Homo sapiens: one gene and its partner. The protein of the gene in region 2 purifies or fractionates together with the protein of the main gene of each other region. This does not show direct contact. Each region holds a gene or a part of one and is shown on either strand. Other genes may lie near its edges.

What was found. The genes of interacting proteins can lie anywhere in the genome.
Region 1: the proteins of QDPR (region 2) and ZDHHC5 purify together in Homo sapiens (co-immunoprecipitation; one large-scale study listed by IntAct). This does not show direct contact.

Annotation. Positions count from the first base shown.
Region 1 is NC_000011.10:57,692,114-57,695,613, forward strand, and holds part of ZDHHC5 (palmitoyltransferase ZDHHC5), read left to right. Parts: intron 1-497; coding exon 498-589; intron 590-1,669; coding exon 1,670-1,802; intron 1,803-3,500. UniProt on the Homo sapiens protein: Palmitoyltransferase that catalyzes the addition of palmitate onto various protein substrates such as CTNND2, CD36, GSDMD, NLRP3, NOD1, NOD2, STAT3 and S1PR1 thus plays a role in various biological processes including cell adhesion, inflammation, fatty acid uptake, bacterial sensing or cardiac functions.
Region 2 is NC_000004.12:17,491,591-17,495,090, reverse strand, and holds part of QDPR (dihydropteridine reductase), read left to right. Parts: intron 1-2,750; coding exon 2,751-2,859; intron 2,860-3,500. UniProt on the Homo sapiens protein: Catalyzes the conversion of quinonoid dihydrobiopterin into tetrahydrobiopterin.

The DNA.
Region 1 (3,500 bases), on a different chromosome or scaffold from region 2:
TCAAGCAATTCTCCTGCCTCAGCTACCCAAGTAGCTGGGATTGCAGGTGCCTGACACCATGCCCGGCTAGTTTTTATATATTTTTATAGTAGAGATGGGGTTTTGCCATGTTGGCCAGTTTGGTCTCAAATTCCGGACCTCAGGTGATCCACCTGCCTCAGCCTCCCAAAGTGCTGGGATTACAGGTGTGAGCTGCCATGCCCAGCCCTTAATTGCTTATTCTTTATCTTAGTTTTCAATATTTAGAAAGCTATCCCATTTTACATGAGGAAACTGAGGTTTTGGGTCAGCAACCATGAGGTAGACCTAGGATTTGAACTAAGGACCCTGACTGTAGATTCCCTGCTCTTAACCATAACATATATAAATTTCTTGTGTTTTACTCATTTGCATAGCCCTCAGATAGTGAGTGCACAATAACTTGTAATAGATTTGTATTTTGGCCTTTGGAAGTCAAGGTCTCATCTTCTAACCTGGTATTTTTTTTCTCCCTCTAGGTTACGGGTAAATTCCGGGGAGGTGTGAACCCCTTCACCAATGGCTGCTGTAACAATGTCAGCCGTGTTCTCTGCAGTTCTCCAGCACCCAGGTACACCTATCCCTCTGGTCTAGTGTTTACCATTGGTCAGAACTTTTATCTTCTTTGGGCTTGTTCTGGTAAAGGAGGGGTCTGGTGAGAGCCTTTAGGAAGGGTTCTCTATCTTAGAATGTTAAGTACCCACTCTATCTTAGAATGGTAAGTAGTCTATCTTAGAATGGTAAGTACCTACATGCCCATCCTTTAGTGCAGTGGTCCCTAACCTTTTTGGCAGCAGGGACCGGTTTCATGGGAGACACTTTTTCCACAGATGGGGGCTGGGGTGGGGTGGTTTCAGGATGAAACTGTTCCACCTCAGATCATGAGGCATTAGATTCTCATGGCTGGGTGTGGCGGCTCACACCCAGCACTTTGGGAGGCCGAGGTGGGCGAATCACTTGAGGTCAGAAGTTCAAGTCCAGCCTGGCCAATATGGTGAAACCCCTTCTCTACTCAAAATACAAAAATTAGCTGGGCAAGGTGGCAGGCACCTGTAATCCCAGCTACTTGGGAGGCTGAGGCAGGATAATTGCCTGAACCCAGGAGGCAGAGGTTGCAGTGAGCTCAGAGCACACATACAACCTAGATTGCTTGCATGTGTAGTTTACAACAGGGTTCTAGGGTTTGCGCTCCTAAGAGAATCTAATGCCTCCGCTGATCTGACAGGAGATGGAGCTCAGGTGATAATGCTCACTGGCCCACTGCTTACCTCCTGCTATGTGGCCCAGTTCCTAACAGGCCATGAACCGGTACTGGTCTGCGGCCCAGGGGTTGGGGACCCCTGCTTTAGTGGACACTGTGAATTCCATTGATATTCTTCAGGTATTAAGGTAAATCTTTGAGAATTGAGGGTGAATAAGATACACTCTAAAGTGCTTTCCTTGAGCTAGGTATCTGCTCACAAAGGCCTAGTCCTGCTGCAGTCCTTCACAGAATCAATTCTGTTTATTGCTAAGTAAGTGATGGCCAAAACTGCAATTACTTTTTTACCAACCTAATAAAAATGGTTTACAGAAACAGTAGATACTTTAAAATATAAATGAATGAAAGCTCTCTCGCTGTGTCTCTCTCTCTCTCTCTCTCGACACTTAGGTATTTGGGGAGACCAAAGAAAGAGAAGACAATTGTAATCAGACCTCCCTTCCTTCGACCAGAAGTTTCAGATGGGCAGATAACTGTGAAGATCATGGATAATGGCATCCAGGGAGAGCTGAGGAGAACAAAGGTGAGGAATTTAGAGAAGTCAAGCTAGATAACATGGAAGTCTCACCCAAGGCAAAGAGACGGAAGCTTGCTTTAGTTTCCTTTGTGTTTTTTTTTTTTTTTTTGAGACAGAGTCTTGCTCTGTTGCCCAGGCTGGAGTGCAGTGGTGCTCAGTGCAAACTCTGCCTCCCAGGTTCAAGCAATTCTCCTGCCTCAGCCTCCCGAGTAGCTGGGATTACAGGTGTCCGTCACCTTGCCTGGCTAATTTTTGTATTTTTAGTAGAGATGGGGTTTTGCCATGTTGGCCAGGCTGGTCTCGAACTTCTGACCTCAGGTGATCTGCCCACCTCGGCCTCCCAAAGTGCTAGGATTACAAGCATGAGCCACCACGCCTGGCCCATATTTCTTACAGTGTTTATCACTTACTAATTTGGGTTAAAATTACTTAAATACAAATCTTGTTTTCTACATTAGATTTTTTTTTTTGAGAGGGAGTCTTGCTCTGTTACCTAGGCTGGACTCCAGTGGTATGATCTCAGCTCACTGCAACCTCTGCCTCCCAGGTTCAAGCGATTCTCGTGCCTCAGCCACCTGGGTAGCTGGGACTACAGGCATGCGCCACCACGCCTGGCTAATTTTTTTATTTTCAGTAGAGGCAGGGTTTTCCTATGTTGGCTAGGCTGGTCTCAAACTCCTGACCTGAAGTGATCCAACCCCCTCAGCCTCCCAAAATGCTAGGATTATAGGTGTGAGCCACTGCACCCGGCCCTACATTAGACTTTAAGTTCATTAACAATAGAAAATGAATTCATTCATTTCCATGTCTTCATAGGACTTAACAGCTTACAGCTAGATGGTAGGAGCTAAACAAGTAGTTGTTGGTTTAAATGGGCAAATAAGTGACAGAATTAAAACCTTTTTTAAACCCTTTCTTCTGCCAGGTACAGTAACTCATGCCTATAATCCCAGCACTTAGCGAGGCTGAGGTGGGAAGATCGCTTGAGTTCAGGAGCTCAAGACCAGCCTGGACAACATAGCGAGACTCCATCTCTAAAACAGACTAAAATAAAAAATAGAAAAATTTTCTGGCTGGGCGTAGTGGCTTATGCCTGTAATCCCAACACTTTGGGAGGCTGAGGTGGGTGGATCACCTGAGGTTGGGAGCTCGAGACCAGCCTGACCAACATGGAGACACCCTGTCTCTATTAAAAATACAAAATTAGCTGGGCATGGTGGCGCATGCCTGTAGTCCTAGCTACTTGGGAGGCTGAGGTAGGAGAATTGCTTGAACCCGGGAGGCGGAGGTTGCAGTGAGCCGAGATCATGCCATTGCACTCCGCCTGGGCAACAAGACCGAAACTCCATCTCAAAAAAAAATTAGCCAGGTGTGGTGGCACATGCCTGTAATCCTAGCTGCTTGGGAGGCTGAGGCATGAGAATCGCTTGAACCTGCGAGCCAGAGGTTGCAATGAGCCGTGATCACGCCACTGCACTCCAGCCTGGGTGACTGAGCAAGACTCCATTTCAAAAAAAAAAACCCAACTTTTCTTCATCTAATGCTATACCCAAACTGATTCTTGTGCCTTGTCTTCCAGTATAGTTGAGAAATATATGATAGGCAGTGGCTCATGTCTATAATCCCAACATTTAGGGTGGCCAAGGTGGGGTGATATTGCTTGAGGCCAGGGGTTCAAGACCAGCTTGGGCAACATGGCGAGAC
Region 2 (3,500 bases):
TGATGAGCTGGGAGAGTGGGAGAAGCATCACCCCCTCCCTGCCGCAGTCACTGGGAGAACATCTCCCTGGCAAGGTGCTGAGCAAAGCCCCTCCTACACCAGGCTGGGCTCCCTCCGCCCTGATCGGGTTCTGTGCGTGCCCTCCATGGTTTCCAAGGCCCTTGTTGGATGCAGTCTCCTTCCATCCTCAGCAGAGCCTTGTGAATAAATTGTGATCTGAGTTACCACTCCCACTGACAGATGGAAAAGCAGGCCCACAGAACCTGTGATTTTTTTTGGTGGCTGGAAAAACAGGAGTTAGGGCTGCACTTTTTGAATTCCAAGTTGATGACCCTTTTTGCAATTCCTTATTGCTGTCCGAGGAAAAAGAGTTGCCAGTGACCTGCTGAGAGTCATGAATGACAATAATGGCCAGGATTGAGTGTTCCTCTGTGCTCAGTACTGTACAAAGGGGATTTGTTAACCTGGAAAAAAAACAATCAATGGAGTTTTATTACTTGACATAATTAAGGAGGATGCTGGAAGTATTCTCCAAAGCAGCGTCTCTCCCAGGAGGGTTTCATGGGGTGATGGAGAGGGGAAAGGGTGTGTCATTGCATGTGGAGGAGGGGTCCCAGTGGCACAGATGCAGTGAGTCATCACGCCAGCACATAGTCACATGTTCTGGTGATGAAGCTGTAGCTCCTCCCGGGTGGAGACTGTAGCATGGTAATGAGGAAAGTCCACTTGGGATCATCTCTATAAGTTGCTGGTTTCACCTGACTTGGTGACTGCATTCCATGCAAGTTGTGGGAAAAACCAGGCTGAAGGGCAGGAGCCTGTGAAACAGGCTGATTGTTCAAGCTGATGAAACTCCTATAGTCCTTGGAGACCCTCCCTGTCTGCTACACTTGTACATGGTATTTTATTTGATTGTTGTATTATCCTTAGGATTTGGGATTGTCATTCCCATTTCACGAAATGGGAAACTGAGGATTCCAAGGTTTAGTAGCCTCTCCCAGTGTCAGTCACTAGCAAGCAGCAGAGCCTGGACACGAAGCCAGGTAGTCGGGTTCCAGGGCACATTACTTCTATTGATTTGATGGGAAACCTTCATTGAGTGCCTGTCCTGTGCTAAGGGTATGCTCACAATTAAGTACTCTATTCCTGTGTGTCGTTATGAGCCCCTCTGGATCACACCTGAGTTTATACTGATAAGGTGATTAGTAGGTTGGGGCCCCTAGACAGCCTCAGGATGGAGCTACTTCTTAGAATGACCAAGCAATTAGGAGGTTAGAACTTTCAGCTCCACCTACCGACCTCCTGGAAGGAAGCAGGGGCTGGAGATTAAGCTCTATAAAAACTTACAGATGTGATAAGCATCTGGGTTGAACACATGGAGGGCACTGGGAGGGTGGCGTGGCTGGAGCAGGCGTGGAAGTTCCATGCCCACCCCCTCTCCTACCCTGCCTCTGTGTCATTCCACCTGGCTGTTCCTGAGTTGTATCCTTTATAATAAACCAGTAACTATAAAAAAAGCGTTTGCCTGAGTTCTTCGAGCCATTCTAGCAAATTATTGCACCTGAAGAGGGGGTTGTGCAAACCCCTGATTAAGCTTGTTGGTCAGAAGTCTAAGTGGCCCAGGACTTGTGACTGCCATCTGAAGTAGGGTAGGTCTTGTGAGACTGAGCCCTTAAATCAGACGGGAGTACAGTGACGTGATCATAGCTAATTGCAGCCTTGACCTCCCCCAGGCTCAAGTGAACCTCCCACCTCAGCCTCCCGAGTAGCCGGGACCACAGGCATGTACCAGCAGGCATGGCTAATTTTTGTAGAGATGGGGTCCCACTACGTTGCCCAGGATGGTCTTGGAACTCTTGGGCTCAAGGGATTCTCCTGCCTCAGCCTCCCAAAGTGCTGGGATTAAAGGCACGAGGCACCACACCTAGCTGGGAGTTCTAATTGAATTGTCAGACACCCAGTTGGTGTCTGGAGACTTAGAGAATTGACTGTGTTAGAAAACACCTCAAACCCATTTTACAGATGCAGCAACTGAGGATTAGAGAGGTTTTGGGAACTTTCCCAGAATTTATTTAGTGGTAAGTGGAGGAACTGGGATTTGAATGTGTGTAATTTGACTTTAAGTCCTATACTCCAAGTGACTGCTTGATTTTGCTGTCCCATTGAGTACCTCTGTGTGCCAGGTGCTCACAAGCATTTAGTGATCAAAAGGTTCAGAACCCATTTCTTGCCTGGGCTTTAACCTCTCCATCAGCTTTGGCACAAGTCTGTGTGTGAGCCTGGCATGTACTCAACCTGTCTTGAGTCTTGGTTTCCTAAGAATAAAAATAAGATCAACCTTCTGGCTTTTGTAATAAATGTTAAGTGTTAGATGAATAGTAAGTACACCTGAAATGTCATGTCTCCTCCACTTTTCTCTCCATAAATGTTCATTTATCTTTTCTTCCTGGCCTCTTCTGGACCCTGGAATGCTGCAGCTTGGATGCACCGGTGGCCTGTGTGAAGCCTGTGTGTTCTTGGAAACTGGCCAGAGGCCATAATTCCCAACCCACGTGTTCCCATCCCCTCTTTCTCGTGGCTCTCTGCCATTTTTTGATGGGGGTTGGTGAGGGCGTCTGACCTGAAGGAGGAGGCCAGATGCAGCTATTTATAAAGTTTTTAGGGAATAGAGATCTCAAGAGAAGATTGCATGTCCTTGCTGTCCCCCTGGCCGCCAGTGGTCACTGAGCCATCTTCTCCCCATTTCCCAGGTATGATCGGGTACGGCATGGCCAAGGGTGCTGTTCACCAGCTCTGCCAGAGCCTGGCTGGGAAGAACAGCGGCATGCCGCCCGGGGCAGCCGCCATCGCTGTGCTCCCGTAAGTGCTTGGGGTTCCCTGGCTGCTGCCCACCTCTGCCCCACTGCTGCAGGTGACCGTTTGTCTGACTGTAGCTTTCCACAGGCGACCTGGGTGTGCTCTCACCTCTGGTTCTGAAACACACCAAAGTCTCTTAAGATACTTATTATCTTAATCTGTTTGAATTGCTCTAACAAAATACCTTAGACTGGGTGATTTATAAACAGCAGAAATGTATTGCTCACAGTTCTGGAGGCTGGGAAGTCCAAGATGAAGGCACCAGCAGATTTGGTGCCTGGCGAGGGCTCATTCCTCATAGATGGCGCCTTCTATATGTGCTCACACGGTGGAAGGGGCAAATGGGCTCCCTCCAGCTTCCTTTATAAGCATGCTAATCCCCTCCTAAAGGCCCCCACTTGTCTCCTGCAGACCCCACCTCTTAATACTATTATGTTGCAGTTTGTGTTTTGTATGTGAGTTTGAGGGGGATACATTCAGACCATAGCAATACTTCCAGTTTTGGGTTCTCCTGGGCTGTCCAGAATGTTTGATTGGCTGGTTGGATGGGTCTGTCTTTTTTGCCTCTTTTTTTCCTCTCCCTTTCTTTTCTCCCTTCATTTCTTCCTTTAAAATTAGACTACACATTTTACTTTTTTATATGT